Linked DNA regions of Homo sapiens: region 1 is linked to region 2. A link means that fine-mapping ties the variant in region 2 to the expression of a gene that starts in the linked region. Tissue or cell type: whole blood. Region 2 holds a variant in brackets; the other region holds the start of a gene. All regions are shown on one strand. Distances are between the middles of the regions.

Region 1 (8,104 bases), 73 kb after region 2:
CCAACGCGGGTGGATCACTTGAGGTCAGGAGTTCAAGACATGCCTGGCCAACATGGTGAAACCCCGTCTCAACTAGAAATACAAAAATCAGCCAAGCACAGTGGCATGCACCTATAATCCAAGGTACTCAGGAGGCTGAGGCAGGAGAATCACTTGAACCCAGGAGGCAGACGTTGCAGTGAGCCGAGATCGCACCACTGCAACTCCCGCCTGGGTGACAGAGAGACCCTGACTAGCTGGGGCAACATGGCAAAACCCTGTCTCTACAAAAATTGGCCAGGCGCGGTGGCTCATGCCTGTAATCCCAGAACTTTAGGAGGCCGAGGTGGGTGGATCACCTGAGGTCAGGAGTTCGAGACCAACCTGACCAACAAGGTGAAACCCCGTCTCTACTAAAAATACAAAAAATTAGCCGGGCCCGGTGGCAGGTGTCTGTAGTCCCAGCTAGTCGGGAGGCTGAGACAGGAGAATTGCTGGAACCCGGGAGGCGGAAGTTGCAGTGAGCCGAGATCGTGCCACTGCACTCCAGCCTGGGCGAAGGAGTGAGACTCCGTCTCAAAAAAAAAGGCAAAGCGGTCTGGTGCAGTGGCTCATGTCTATACTCCCAGCACTTTGGGAGGCCAAGCCAAGTGGATCACTTGAGGTTAGGAGTTTGAAAGCAGCCTGGCTCATGCCTGTAATACCTGCACTTTGAGAGGCTGAGGTGGAAGGATTGCTTAAGCCCACGAGTTCAAGACCAGCCTGGGCAATACAGGGAGACCCTGTCTCCACCAAAAAAAAAAAAAAAAAAAAAAAAAAAAAAAAAATTTAACCAGGTGTGGTAGCATTTACCTGTGGTCCTAGCTACTTGGGAGGCTAAGGTGGGAGGATTTCTGGAGCCAAGAAGATCGAGGCTACAGTGAACTATGATCACACAACTGCACTCCAGCCTAGGCAACACAGTGACTCTCTCAAAAACAAACAACAAAAAAAAAGTCCAAGGTTATGCAAAACTACTCAATATGTCTTTTTTTGGGATACAAACAATTTTAGTCAAATTATAAAGAAAAGCAAGTTAAGTGACAAGCATAAAGTTGAAGACAGTGGTTACCCTAGGGCAAAGGAGGGAGCCATGAGGCGGAACTACACAAAGGACCACAAATATGAGGGTAGTCTTCTGTTTCTTTTTTTCTTTTTTTTTTTTGAGACAGAGTCTCACTCTGTTGCCCAGGCTGGAGTGCAGTGGCGCAATCTCAGCTCACTGCTGCCTCTGCCTCCCAGATTCAAGAGATTCTCCCACATCAGCCTCCCAAGTAGCTGGGACTACAGGTAAGCATTACCATGCCGGGCTAATTTTTGTATTTTTTGGTACAGATAGGGTTTTACCATGTTGAACAGGCTGGTCTCAAACTGCTGATCTCAGGTGATCCTACCACTTCGGACTCCCAAAGTGCTGGGATTATAGGTGTGAGCCACTGTGCCCGTCCTTAAACTCCTTTGATTAAAAATATAGGCAGGGCACAGTGGTTCACACCTGTAATCCCAGCACTTTGGGAGGCCGAGGCGGGCGTATTACCTGAGGCCAGGAGTTTGAGATCAGCCTGGCCAACATGCCAAAAGCCCGTCTCTACTAAAAATATAAAAAATTAGCCAGGCATGGTGGCGGGCACCTGTAATCCTAGCTACTCGGGAGGCTGAGGCAGGAGAATTGCTTGAGCCGGGCAGGCAGAGGCTGCAGTTAGCTGAGATCTCTCCACTGCACTCCAGCCTGGGCAACATGAGTGAAACTTCGCCTCAAAAAAAAAAATATATATATATATAAAACAAAACTTACCAATTAACCTTTTTAAAGTGTACAGTTCAGTCTTAAGTAGATTCACATTGTTGTGAAACAGATCTCTAGAACATTTTCATCTTGCAAATCTGAAACTCTGTACCCATTAAACAACTTCCCATTCCTCCTTACCGCAGCCTCTAGCAACCACCATTCTACTTTTCTGTTTACATGAATTTGACTACTTCAGATTCTCATATAAGTGGGGATCATACAATATTTGTCCATTACTGGTTTACTTCACTTAACATAATATCGTCAACATTCATCCATGTTGCAGCATATGACATTTTCTTTTTTATTTTCACTTATTTATTTATTTTTGAGATGGAGTCTCACTCTGTCACCCAGGCTAGAGTGTAGTGGTGCCATCTCGGCTCACTGCAACCTCCACCTCCCAGGTTCAAGCAATTCTCCCTGCCTCAGCTTCCTGAGTAGTTGGGATTACAGGCGCCCACCACCATGCCCAGCTAATTTTTGTATTTTTAGTAGAGACAGGGTTTCACCATGTTGGCCAGGCTGGTCTTGAACTCCTGACCTTAGGTGATCTGCCCTCCTCGGCCTCCCCAAGTGCTGGGATTACAGGCGTTAGCCACCGCACCCGGCCATCTTATTTTTATTTTTTGAAGAGATGGAGTCTTGCTCTGTCACTCAGGGTGGAGTACAGCAGTGCAATCATGGCTCACTGAAGCCTCAACCTCCTAGGCACATGTAATCCTCCGACTTCAGCTTCCAGAGTAGCTAGGACTACAGGCACATGCCACAATGCCCAGCTGATTTTTTTTTGAGACGGAATCTCGTTCTGTCACCCAGGCTGGAGTGCAGTGGCGTGATCTCGGCTCACTGCAACCTCGGCCTCCCGGATTCAAGCAATTCTTCTGCCTCAGCCTCTCAAGTAGCTGGGATTACAGGCATGTGCCACCATGCCCGGCTAATATTTTTGTACTTTTAGTAGAGACAAGGTTTCACCATATTGGCCAGGCTGGTCTCAAACTCCTGACCCTCTGATCCACCCACCTCGACCTCCCAAAGTGCTGGGACTACAGGCGTGAGACACCGCGCCCGGCCTGCCCAGCTAATTTTTGTATTCTTTATTTTATTTTATTTTTTGTGGAAACAGGATCTCGCTATGTTGCTCAGGCTGGTCTGGAACTCCTGGACTCAAGCAATCCTCCCACCTTGGCCTCCCAAAGTGCTGGGATTACCAGCATGAGCCGCTGCATCCAGCCAAGATTTTCTTCCTAAGGCTGAATGATATTCTATTGTATATGACACATTTTGTTTATCCATCTATCAATGGACACTGGGGTTACCTCTCCCTTTTGACTATTGCAAATAATGCTGCTATGAACATGACTGTACAAGTAACTGAGTCCCCGCTTTCATTTCTCTTGGATTCAGACCCAGAAGTGGTACTGCTGGATCATATGGCAATTCTATTTGTTAATTTTTTGAGGGAACTGCCATACTGTTTTCCATAGCTGCTGTACCATTTTACATTCTTACCAACAATACACAAGGGTATATTTCTTAATATATGGGGGCTGGGTGCAGTGGCTCACGCCTGTAATCCCAGCACTTTGGGGGGCTGAGGCAGGTGGATCACCTGAGGTCAATAATTCGAGACCAGCCTGGCCAACAAGGCAAAACCCTGTCTCTACTAAAAATACAAAAATTAGCCGGGTGTGGTGGCACGTGCCTGTAACCCTCGTCACTTGGGAGGCTGAGGCAGGAGAATTGCTTGAAGCCAGGAGGTGGAGGTTTCAGTGAGCCAAAATCACGCCACTGCACTCCAGCCTGGGCGACAGAGGGAGACTCCACCTCAAAATATATATATATATGGAACCTAAGACAAAAGCCTGCACTCACCCCTAATCTGCTAAATTCAAGTTCTCTCCATGATGAGGTTTCAAAAGGAATTAGTGCAAAATGTATTTAAGGATATGACCAGAAAGGAGAAAGAAAAAACAAATGGCTATTACACACACAGCAGAAAAGTAACACTAGGAGGCAAAGGAACTCAATGAAGAAATATTTCGGTGGCAGGCGGTGGTTCAGCCTGTAATCCCCGCACTTTGGAAAGCTAAAGCAGGAGAATCACTTGAGCCCAGGAGTTCAAGACCAGCCTGAGCAACATAGTGATACCCCTGTTTCTATTTATAAATAAATAAATAAATAAATATTTCCAACCAAAGAATACAAACTTAGTAAAGCTAATGAAGGAAGAACACAGTGAAGAGCTGCCGATGTAAGAGAAAAAAAGAAAATTTCCGGAGGAAAAAAGTTCAAAGATTTGCAACTATTTCCTCAGAAGGAACTGGGAAAAGGGAGTTTTGAGTAATAAGGCCTTGTGCAAGTTTCTGACTCTTAAGGATGTGAATGTACTGCCTTAAAAAATAAACTAAAAAGAGCCTCTTTTCTCACCACAACTCAACAATCATGAAGGTATCCTTGCAAGTGTGTGTAGACCTCTCATGCCTCCTAGGTCCAGGGTCACTCGTCCAGGACTCTCCCAATATCCCTGCCCAGAGGAAGCGCTTCCTCAGACTCGGTTCCTTCTGGTTGCCCTTGTCTCGCTTCTCTAGGGTGGGCTGGCCGCTCCCGCACTGGGGTCAAAGATCCTCCGGGTTCTCTCTGCCACGACTCGCCCTGATCCCAAATCCCAGCCCCACGGTCCCCACCCCCAGCGGGCCCAGTCCCCGCTCGATCCTGGGTGTGCGGCCCTCGACCTCAGACCCGGCCCCTGCCCGCCGGCCGCCCCTCACCTCGGCCTCGGAGGCTCCACGCTCCCCCTCTCACAGCCCGCACCTCGGCGGTCTCTCGGAGGAGGGAGGAACCCGAGGTACCTGGTAGTCGTAGCTGAGGAACTTACAGGCTTGTTGACCATCTCACCATGGAAACTGCCGCAGCGCTCCCTGGGCGGGGCCGCCGAGGGGCGGGGCCTGCGCGAATCCCGGGCGCCCGCCAGTCCAGCGCTCCCTGCGCTTCCGGAAGCCTTGCTGCTCCCGCGTGCCTAGCGGGGGCTCGGCCCTATGCCACGGGCATCCCACCCTGCTACCAGCTGCCCTCTTGTCCGCTGGCCGGACTCTTACCCCAGCCTTCTTCAGGAAGACACGGCGCAGTCCGGCTTCCCCACGAAAGCGAAGGTCGCTGGGACCGCGGCTGGGCGTCCGGGGGCGGGGCCGCGACGCCATTGTGACGCGCTCGGAGCAGGGCTGGGCCGAGGACCCCGGGCGCTGGAGGGCAGGCCCTAGCCACTGCTCCTGAGGCCCTGGAGGCAGCTGACGCTTGAGGCCGCTGGGCGCCGCAACGTGAGCCCAAAGGACGCCCCGCTTCAAGACTGGCGCAAGAGGAAAAAATGAAGGTCGTTTTCTGCGGAGGATGTTAGGAGAACGAGAACTGCGGGCCAGAGAACTGACCTAGCTTAAGGAGCGCAGGCAGCCTCTGCCGCCGGCTCTTGGGGAGACACGGAGAGGATGGGGTCCCCGCTCCGCATCAGGTCCTCTGACGCACCCCGGCTTTCCAGGAGGTAGGACTGGCCACAGGCCTCCTTCCCAGGGACAAAGTGCAAAGCAGAGGCTGTCAGCAGCGTGACCTTCGCTGCAGGAGAAATACGCGTCCAGTTCGTTTTCGTCAGAGTTCTGCTACATCAGGCCTGCCGTATTTGCTGTACACAAATCAGCCAACTTCCCAGGCCTGGGTGCGGAGGTATTTGTTAAGCACATGCACACAGTTGGAATTAGCAGCCTCAGGGATCAAAAGTTGTCCTTTTTTTTTTTTTTTTTTTTGGAGACGAAGTTTCGCTCTTGTTGCCCAGGCTGGAGTGCAGTGGCGCGATCTTGGCTCACTGCAACCTCCGCCTCCCGAGTTCAAGTGATTCTCCTACCTCAGGCTCCCGAGTAGCTGGGATTACAGTCGTCCGCCACCACGCCCGGTTAATTTTTTTTGTTTTTAGTAGAGATGGGGTTTCACCATTTTGGCCAGGCTGGTGTCGAACTCTTTTTTTTTTTTTTTTTTTTTTTTTTTGAGACGGAGTCTCGCTCTGTCACCCAGGGTGGAGTGCAGTGGCGCGATCTCAGCTCACTGCAAGCTCCGCCTCCCAGGGTCACGCCATTGTCTTGCCTCAGCCTCCCGAGTAGCTGGGACTACAGGCGCCCGCCACCACGCCCGGCTAATTTTTTGTATTTTTAGTAGAGACGGGGTTTCACCGTGTTAGCCAGGTTGGTCTTGATCTCCTGACCTCGTGATCCGCCCGTCTCGGCCTCCCAAAGTGCTGGGATTACAGGCATGAGCCACCGTGCCCGGCCTGGTGTCGAACTCTTGACCTCAGGTGATCCACTGGCCTCGGCCTCCCAAAGTGGTAGGATTACAGGCGTGAGCCACCGCGCCCCTGCCCAAGAGTTGTCATTTCTGTAGCAAAGCAGCTAAGCAATATTCTTTTGCCTGCCACCTAAATGTGATTAGGTGCAGCATCATTAAGAAAAAAAATAAAAAGCCCGGGCGTGGTGGCTTACGCCTGTAATCCTAACACATTGGGAGGCCAAGGCGGGTGGATCACCTGAGATCAGGAGTTTAAGATCAGTCTGGCCTACATGGTGAAACTCCAACTCTACTAAAAATTCAAAATTAGCTGGGTGTGGTGGCACATGCCTGTGATCCCAGTTATTCGGGAGGCTGAGGCAGGAGAATAGCTTGCACCCGGGAGGCAGAGGTTGCTGTGAGCCGAGATCTCGCCATTGCACTCCAGCCTGGGCAACAAGAGCGAGACTCTGTCCCAAAAAAAAAAAAAAAAAAAAAAAAAAGCCCTGAGACCCACGGTAGCTGGCCTGGATTACTTGATGAACATAAACAGGTTCACAGAAAATTGATATCAGACGAGTTCTTTCTGTGACTGAGGGAAGGAGAAAATAATTCCGATCAGTGATCTTGCCTGCATAAATAAAAACTGGCACTGCGCAACCACACACACAGAAGAATAAACATCCCTTCTTCAGCTAGCATGAGTAATTACTGCTTTTTCTCCAATGACAGCTTTAGCTCCTCTCTATTCCTCCTGCTTTCTGGATTTAAAAAAAATTTTTTTTTTTTTTTTTTGAGAAGGAGTCTTGCTCTGTCGCCCAGGCTGGAGTGAAGTAGCACAATTTCGGCTCACTGCAACCTCTGCCTCCCAGGTTCAAGCAATTCTCCTGTCTCAGCCTCTCGAATAGCTGGGATTACAGGCACCTGCCACCTAGTAGAGATGGGGTTTCACCAGGTTGGCCAGGCTGGTCTCAAACTCCTGACCTCAAGTGATCGCCTGCCTCGGCCTCCCAGAGTGCTGGGATTACAGGCATGAGCCACCGCGCCCCACCTAAAATTGTTGAAATAATCTTTGAGTGGCCGGGCGCGGTGGCTCACGCCTGTAATCCCAGCACTTTGGGAGGCCGAGGCGGGCGGATCACGAGGTCAGGAAATCGAGACCATCCTGGCTAACACGGTGAAACCCCGTCTCTACTAAAAATACAAAAAATTAGCCGGGCGAGGTGGCGGGCGCCTGTAGTCCCAGCTACTCGGGAGGCTGAGGCAGGAGAATGGCGTGAACCCCGCGGGGCGGAGCCTGCAGTGAGCCGAGATCGCGCCACTGCACTCCAGCTTGGGTGAAAAAGCGAGACTCCATCTCAAAAAAAAAAATAATAATAATCTTTGAGTTGCCCCTGTTAGTACAGCACCAATCCAAAACACACCCCTGTCCTTGGACCCTCCCCAAAATCACCAGCCACAAGTCCAAATGGTATAACAAGCCCTCTAACAAGTCTCCTAAGACACCCCATGGTTTCAGAGGTGTGATGTCTCATTGCAGCAACTAACAGCCCCAAATAATAACTAGTTCACAGTGAGGAATATATGCATTCACTGAAATAGCAAATCATCATTCCACCATATGTATGCCTTTTGTAGTCTGACTGGTAGACACGGCAAATATAGATACACTTATATATGAAGGATACGTAACTCATATGCACAAATGAAACTTCAGAGCCTATACTCTAATGAAAAATCAAAATAAATTTTTCTTTCTTTTTTTTTTTAACTCTTTGAGACAGGGTCTTGCACCATCCCCTAGCCAGGAGTGCAGTGGCAGGATCTCAGCTCGCTGCAGCCTTGACAGCTCAAGCAATCTTCCCACCTCAGCCTCTCAGCCTCCCGGTAGCTGGGACGACAGGGGGTCACCACCACACCCAGCTGATTTTTTTTTTTTTTTTTTTTTGAGATGGTGTCTCGCACTGTCTCCCGGGCTGGAGTGCAATGGTG
Region 2 (8,104 bases):
CTTGAGTTTTCTAATTCATATAAATAAATCTGCAGAACAGGCATGGGAATGGATATTAAGGGTGTGGGATAATGGTGGAAAGAACACAAAGTTTGATCAGGCTGAATTTATTGATTTGAGTCCACTAAGTACGGACTCTGCATTCAATGTTGCCACTTGGGTAGTTAAAAAAGGTTCTAATAGTTTATTTGCTTGGTTAGCTAAAATACAGATAAGAAGATGATCCACTGTGAGCAAGCTGGATATGCCTCATCTCCCTTGGTTTAACGTAGAGGAAGGGATACAAAGGCTTAGGGAGATTGGGATGGTGGAGTGGATTAGTCACTTTAGACCTACTCATCCCAGCTGGGAGGGCCCAGAAGATATACCCTTGACCAATGCCTTGTGAAACAGATTTGTGAGGGCAACACCTGCATCTTTGAAGAGCCCTCTAATTGCTCTTCTCTGTATGTCAGATCTAACAGTGGGAACTGCAGACACTCAACTACAAAATTTAAATATAATGGGAATAATTGGATCCCAAGGTGGCAGGGGCCAAGTGGCAGCACTCAACCATCAAAGGCAAGGTGGGCGTGGCTACTCTGATGGACAGCAGAGGCAAAGTGGCAATCAGAAGATCCTGACTAATGTAGAGCTCTAGCATTGGCTAATCATGGTGTTCCTACAAGTGAAAGTGATAGGAAGCCTACTGCATTCCTACTTAATTTATATAAGCAGAAAATTTCTAAGTCGAAGGGACAAAAGTCTAATTTGAATTATAAAAACAGAGAATCAGCCAGCACAGTGGCTCACACCTATAATCCCAGCACTTTGGGAGGCCAAGGCAGGTGGATCACCTGAGCTCAGGAGTTCAAGACTAGCCTGGCCAACATGGTGAAACCCCATCTGTACTAAAAATACAAAAATTAGCCAGGCATGGTGGCACAAACCTGTAATCCCAGCTACTCAGGAGGCTGAGGCTGGAGAATTGCTTGAACCCAGGAAGTGGAGGTTGCAGTGAGTCGAGATCACACCAATGCATTCCAGCCTGAATGACAGAGGGAGACTCTGTCTCAAAAACAAACAACAAAAACAAACAAAAAAACAAACTAGAGAATCACAACCCCTCAATCAATTTCCAGACTTGAGCCAGTTTACAGATCCAGAACCCCTTGAATGAAGGGGAGACCAGGTCCCCTTGAGGAAGAACCCTACTACATTACCGACAATTTACATAGTGACTCTTTCTCCCATCCTTCCACAAGGAGACCTCCAACCTTTTACCAGGGTAACTGTGCACTGGGGAAAGTGAAATGATCAGACATTTCGGGGACTGCTGGACACTGGCTCTGAGCTAACGATTCCAGGGGACCCAAAACATCACTGGTCCTACAGTTAAAGTAGGGGCTTATAGAGATCAGGTAATTAATGAAATTTTAGCTCAGGCCCAACTTACAGTGGGTCCAGTGGGTCCCCGGACTTACCCTGTGGTCATTCCTGAGTGCCAGAATGCATAATTGGCATAGACATACTTAGCAGCTGGCAGAACTCCCATATTGGCTCCCTGACTGGTAGGATAAGGGCTATTATGGTGGTAAAGGCCAAATGAAAGCCATTAGAGCTGCCTTTACCTAGAAAAATAGTAAATCAAAAACAATATCACATCCCTGGAGAGACTGTGGAGATTAGTGCTACTACCAAGGACTTGAAAGACGCTGGGGTGGTGATTCCCACCACATCCCCATTCAGCTCTCCCATTTAGCCTGTGCAGACGACAGATCTTGGAGAATGACCATGGATTATTGTAAGCTTAACAAAGTGGTGACTCCAATTGCAGCTGCTGTACCAGATGTGGTTTCATTGCTTGAGCAAATTAGCACATTTCCTGGTAGGTGGTATGCAGCCATTGTCTTGGCAAATGTCTTTTCCTCCATTCCTGTCCATAAGGCCCACCAAAAGCAATTTGCCTTCAGCTGGCAAGGCCAGCAATATACCTTTACTGTCCTACCTCCAGGGTATATCAATTCTCTGGCTTTGTGTCATAATCTTATTCGGAAGCACCTTGATCGCTTTTTCTTATTTGGAGACACCTTGATCACTTTTCGCTGCCGCAAGATATCACACTGGTCCATTACATTGATGATATTATGCTGACTGGATCCAGTGAGCAAGAAGTAGCAAACACACTGGACTTACTGGTGAGACATTTGTGTGCCAGAGGATGAGAAATAAAACTGACTTAAATTCAGGGAACTTCTACCTCAGTAAAATTTCTAGGGGTCCAGTGGTGTGGGGCCTGTTGAGATATTCCTTCTAAGGTGAAGAATAAGTTGCTGCATTTGACCATTCCTTCAACCAAGAAAGGCACAATGCCTAGTAGGCCTATTTGGATTTTGGAGGCAAAGCATTCCTCATCTGGGTGTGTTACTCCAGCCCATTTATCAAGTGACCCGAAAGGCTGTCAGTTTTGAGTGGGGTCCAGAACAGAAGAATGCTCTGCAATAGGTCCAGGCTGCTGTGCAAGCTGCTCTGCCACTTGAGCCATATGACCCAACAGATCCAATGGTGCTGGAGGTGTCAGTGACAGACAGGGTGCTGTTTGGAGCCTTTGGCAGGCCCCCATAGGTGAATCACGATGGAAGCTTCTAGGATTTTGGAGCAAGGCCCTGCCATCTTCTGCAGATAACTACTCTCCTTATGAGAGACAGTTCTTGGCCTATTACTGGGCTCTGGTGGAAACTGAAGGTTTGACTATGGGTCATCAAGTCACCTGGCAACCTGAACTGCCTATTATGAACTGGGTGCTTTCTGACTCATATAGCCATAAAGTGGGTCATGCGCAGCAGCATTCCATCATCAAACGGAAGTGGCATATATGTGATCAGGCTCGAGCAGGTCCTGAAGGCACAAGTGAGTTACATGAGGAAGTGGCTCAAATGCCCATGGTCTCCACTCCTGCCACCATGCCTTCTCTCCCCCAGCCTGCACCGATGGCCTCATGGGGAGTTCCCTATGATCAGTGAACAGAGGAAAAGAGGACTAGGGCCTGGTTCACAGATGATTCTGCACGATATGCAGGCATCACCTGAAAGTGGACAGCTGCAGCACTACAGCCCCTTTCTAGGACATCTCTGAAGGACAGCGGTGAAGGGAAATCTTCCCAGTGGGCAGAACGTTGAGCAGTGCACCTGGTTGTGCACTTTACATGGAAGGAGAAATGGCCACATGTGCGATTATATATTGATTAATTGGCTGTAGCCAATGGTTTGGCTGGATGGTCAGGGACTTGGAAGAAGCATTACTGGAAAATTGGTGACAAACTTGGGGAAGAGGTGTGTGGATGGATCTCTCTCAGTGGTCAAAAACTGTGAAGATATTTGTATCCCATGTGAGTGCTCACCAACAGGTGACCTCAGCAGAGGAGGATTTTAATAATCAAGTGGATAGGATGACCCGTTCCGTGGACAGCACTCAGCCTCTTTCCTCAGCCACCCCTGTCGTCGCCTAATGGGCCCATGAACAAAGTGGCCATGGTGGCAAGAGTGGAGGTTATGTATGGGCTCAGCAACATGGACTTCCACTCACCGAGGCTGACCTGGCTATGGTCACTGATGAGTGCCCTATTTGCTAGCAGCAGAGACCAACACTGAGCCCTTGATATGGCACCATTCCTCGGGTGATCAGCCAGCTACCTGGTGGCAGGTTGATTATATTGGACCTCTTCCATCATGGAATGGACAGAGGTTTGTCGTCATTAGAATAGACACTTACTCTGGATATGGGTTTGCCTATCCTGCACACAATGCTTCTGCCAAGACTACCATCTGTGGACTCACAGAATGCCTTATCCACCATCACAGTATTCCACACAGCACGTCCTCTAACCAAGGTGCTTACTTTATGGCTAAAAAAGTGCGGCAGTGGGCTCATGCTCATGGAATTGACTCATCTAACCATGTTCCCCATCATCCTGAAGCAGCTGGATTGACAGAACAGTGGAATGGCCTTTTGAAGTCACAAATATAACACCAACTAGGTGACAATATTTTGCAAGGCTGGGGCAAAGTTCTCCAGAAGGCTGTGTATGCTCTGAATCAGCATCCAATATATGGTACTGTTTCTCCCATAGCCAGGATTCATGGGTCCAGGAATCAAGGGATGGAAGTGAAAGTGGCACCAGTTACCATCACCCCTAGTGTTCCACAAGCAAAATTTTTGCTTCCTGTTCCCGCAAAATTACGTTCTGCTGGCCTAGAGGTCTTAGTTCCATAGGGAGGAACACTGCCACCAGGAGACCCAACAACAATTCCATTAAACTGGAAGATTGCCACCTGAACACTTTGGGCTTCTTCTACCTTTAAGTGAACCGGCTAAGAAGGGAGTTACAGGGCCGGGCACGGTGGCTCACGCCTATAATCCCCGCACTTTGGGAGGCCAAGG[C/T]GGGCGGATCATGAGGTCAGGAGTTTGAGACCAGCCTGACCAACATGGTGAAACCCTGTCTCTACTAAAAATACAAAAATTAGCCAGGCATGGTGGCATGTGCCTGTAATCCCAGCTACTCAGGAGGCTGAGGCAGGAGAATTGCTTGAACCCGGGAGGCAGAGGTTGCAGTGAACCAAGATCATGCCATTGCACTCCAGCCTGGGCGACAGAGTGAGACTCCTTCTCAAAAAAAACAAACAAAAAAAAGGGAGTTACAGTGTTGCCTGGGATGGTTGTCCCGGATTATCAAGATGGAATCAGTCTACTACTCCACAATGGAGGTAAGGAAGAGTATGCATGGAATACAGGAGATCCATTAGGGTGTCTCTTGGTATTACCATGTGCTGTAATTAGATCAATGGGAAACTACAACAGCCCAATCCAGCCAGGACTACAAATGACCCAGACCCTTCAGGAATGAAGGTTTGGGTCACTCCACCAGGAAAAAAACCATGACCTGCTGAGGTGCTTGCTGAAGGCAAAGGGAATACAGAATGGGTAATAGATGAAGGTAGTCATCAATACCAGCTATGACCATGTGACCAGCTGCAGAAACGAGGACTGTAATTGTCATATTTCCTCCCTCTTTTGTTAAGAACATGTTTGTGCATATATATACTTGTACTAAAAAAATCTTCATTTTATTTCCTTTCCCTTTATCATGTGACATAAGATTTATTGACTTCACATCAGCATTTATGTATTGTTAACTTTATGTAATAGTATTTGGGTTGGGAATTGGTACGTTTCCCATTGTATGAAGGACAGTTGTATTATGTTAGGCATAATTATGACCTTATTATTGTCTTTATTTGAAGATTATATATGATCTCAGGAGATGTGTATGGGTTCAAGTTGACAACCGGTGGACTTGTGATGGTTAATACTGAGTGTCAACTTAATTGTATTGAAGGATACAAAGTATGGATCCCGGGCGTGTCTGTGAGGGGGTTGCCAAAGAAGATTAACATTTGAGTCAGTGGGCTGGGAAAGGCAGACCCACCTTAATCTGGGTGGGCACAATCTAATCAGCTGACAGCGAGGCTAGAATATATATAGGCAGAAATACGTGAAAAGAGAGACTGGCCTAGCCTCCCCGCCTACATCTTTCTCCCATGCTGGATGCTTCCTGCCCTCGAACATTGGACTCCAATCCTTTTGGAACTAATCCTTTTGGAAGTTGGACTGGTTCTCCTTGCTCCTCAGCTTGCAGATGGCGTGTTGTGGGGCCTTGTGTTTGTGTGAGTTAATCCTTAATAAACTCCCATGATATATATATATATATATATATATGTTCCATTAGTTCTGTCCCTCTAGAGAACCCTAATACAAGCCAAATCTACAATAGCAAAATATTTACCAGTTGTTTATTAGATAGAGTCAGTAACTTCAATAATATTGGGTATCAGGTCTGAGGACCTTAAGGTTCCAGTAATCCACCATGAGGCACTATTCACATTCATGCTTTCCAGGTTAAAAAGGCCAAGTTTGGCTGCTAGATGCAGGTGCAGTGGGATAATCACCCCTTCATACAAGTTTCAATTCTTTTTTTTTTTTTTGGACAGAGTCTTGCTCTGTCACCCACGCTGGAGTGCAGTAGTGCAATCTTGACTCACTGCAACCTCCACCTCCTGTGTTCAAGTGATTCTCATGCCTCAGCCACCCGAGTAGCTGGGATTACAGGTGTGCACCACCATGCCTAGCTAATTTTTGTATTTTTAGTACAGAGAGCGTTTTGTCATGTGCCCCAGCTGGTCTTGAACTCCTGAGTTCAAGCAATCTGCCTGCCTCAGCCTCTTGAAATGCTGGGAGCCACCGTGCCCAGCCTTAATTCTTGAAGGCCCTGTTTTAATTTACATTGGCCACATTAACTATTTTATTTAATTTTATTTATTTATTTATTTTGAGGTGTAGTTTCACTCTTGTCACCCAGGCTGAAGTGCAGTGATGCAATCTTAGCTCACTACAACCTCCGCCTCCCAGGTTCAAACGATTCTCCTGCCTCAGCCTCCCGAGTAGCTGGGATTACAGGCATGCACCACTACACCTGGCTAGTTTTTTTGTTTGTTTGTTTTTGTTTTTGTTTTTTGTATTTTTGTATTTTTAGTAGAGACGGGATTTTGCCATGTTGGCCAGGCTGGTCTCAAACTCCTGACCTCAGGTGATCCACCCGCCTCGGCCTCCCAAAGTGCTGGGATTACAGGCATGAGCCACCGTGCCCAGCCCGATATTATTTTAACTGTGGTTTTCACAAGGTCCCTTTTCATTAAGCCAAGTTGTTAAGTGCCAATGACTTCATTTTAATTTATTGCTCACTGATTCCATGTCCACCACGGTACATTTTAAGGTCATAAGTGCTATGACCATGTGGTATCTTGGAGAGACAACAGTTAAGGTGAGGCATACTTATTTAGTCTCTATTTTATATTCAGAAACTCCCCTAAAAACATACAGACAAGGAGGGGAAGTTCTTTTTATTCTGCTCATATTTATAGATTTCTTTCTCCAGAGAGCCTCAAATCATTATCATCAGGGTGAGAGGCCTCCTCCTTCCCTGCAAGGCAATGGTTGGTTTACAGGGTTTAAGAACCTCAGGCTTAAGCTGGGTTTGAATTAACCCCCTCACAATGCCACAGGGTGCCATAGGGTGGCTTTTCCCTATGACCCTACAGAGGAGGATTTTTCTTGCAATGGAGGCTCGGGCAGCAAAGTACTGCAGTGGAAACCTGCAAGGCCCATGGCCCAGTGGTGGGTGGACTGAAACTATCCTTAGCAACAGTCCCGCCTTTTCCATGACACAGGCTTTTTTATTGCTGTCTATATATAAATTGCCAAACAATATTTTAGATTTCTAGCCACAATAAGTTGCAGCTTTCCATTTCAGTCACTGTCCCATCACCATGTGGACCTTCTGGATGAGAACAGGGAAAGGTTCAGGGGCCCAATGGCCCACCTTGTAGGCAGCTGCCCCTTCTGACAGGGAGGGCCAATCAATATCTCCAGGGTTAGGATCCACATCCAGGAAGGTCATTTTGTTTATGGCCCAGGTGGGAGCCAACAAGCTGTGCCATTACAAGCTTAGCCCTCTGGCTTCTTGGTAAGCAGCCATACTAAGCAAAGCCCAGGTGCACTGGCTAGGGGTTTTGCATGGGGAAAGCAGTTGAGCTACATTCTCCAGCAGGAGAGGCTGGTACCAAATGCTCCTTCTATTTTTTCATCAGCTCCTCGGTTGTGGGCTACAACAGATTTGCACCTTCATGCTCTTAGACACCAGGAGAGCACGCTGAACAGAAGCAGGGGAAGCAACAGCACAAGTGCCAGGCAAGGCCATTACTCTTGCCTGAAAAACACTCACTAGGCATCCATGGTGCCATGTTTAATTCTCCCTGGAGTAGTGGTCTTCTTTCTTCCTTTCCGCTAACCTCAGGAAGGGCAGACCTGTCCCAGGGGGTGGGTGCACAATCACAAATAACATCTGTATAGCTCCCCCAGGTAGCCAGTGATGGTTCACAGAGTAGACACAGCAACAAAAGAGATCTGGCCTGACTCGTGGTAAGCTGAACTCAAGCACCAACTGGTTAGGGTGCTGTGTTGTTGCTGCCTCTACAGGAGGGAGCCTCATAAACCACCTATAAACACACCA

Evidence for each region. PIP is the estimated chance that this variant, and not a neighbour inherited with it, causes the effect.
Region 1: it holds the start of ZNF487, and the variant in region 2 is fine-mapped to the expression of ZNF487 in whole blood (TOPMed, PIP above 0.99).

The regions. Positions count from the first base shown.
Region 1 is chr10:43,433,737-43,441,840 of GRCh38, reverse strand. It overlaps ZNF487 (zinc finger protein 487), which reads right to left and starts at 4,730. Exons shown (of 4, transcript NM_001355444.3): 1 at 4,579-4,730. RefSeq lists a silencer at 4,446-5,105 and an enhancer at 5,206-5,275.
Region 2 is chr10:43,507,109-43,515,212 of GRCh38, reverse strand. It overlaps a transcript of ZNF487 not described here. Among named protein-coding and RNA genes, the nearest start is that of ZNF239, 63 kb to the left of the region's middle. The variant C/T (reference allele first, on the strand shown) is at 4,420.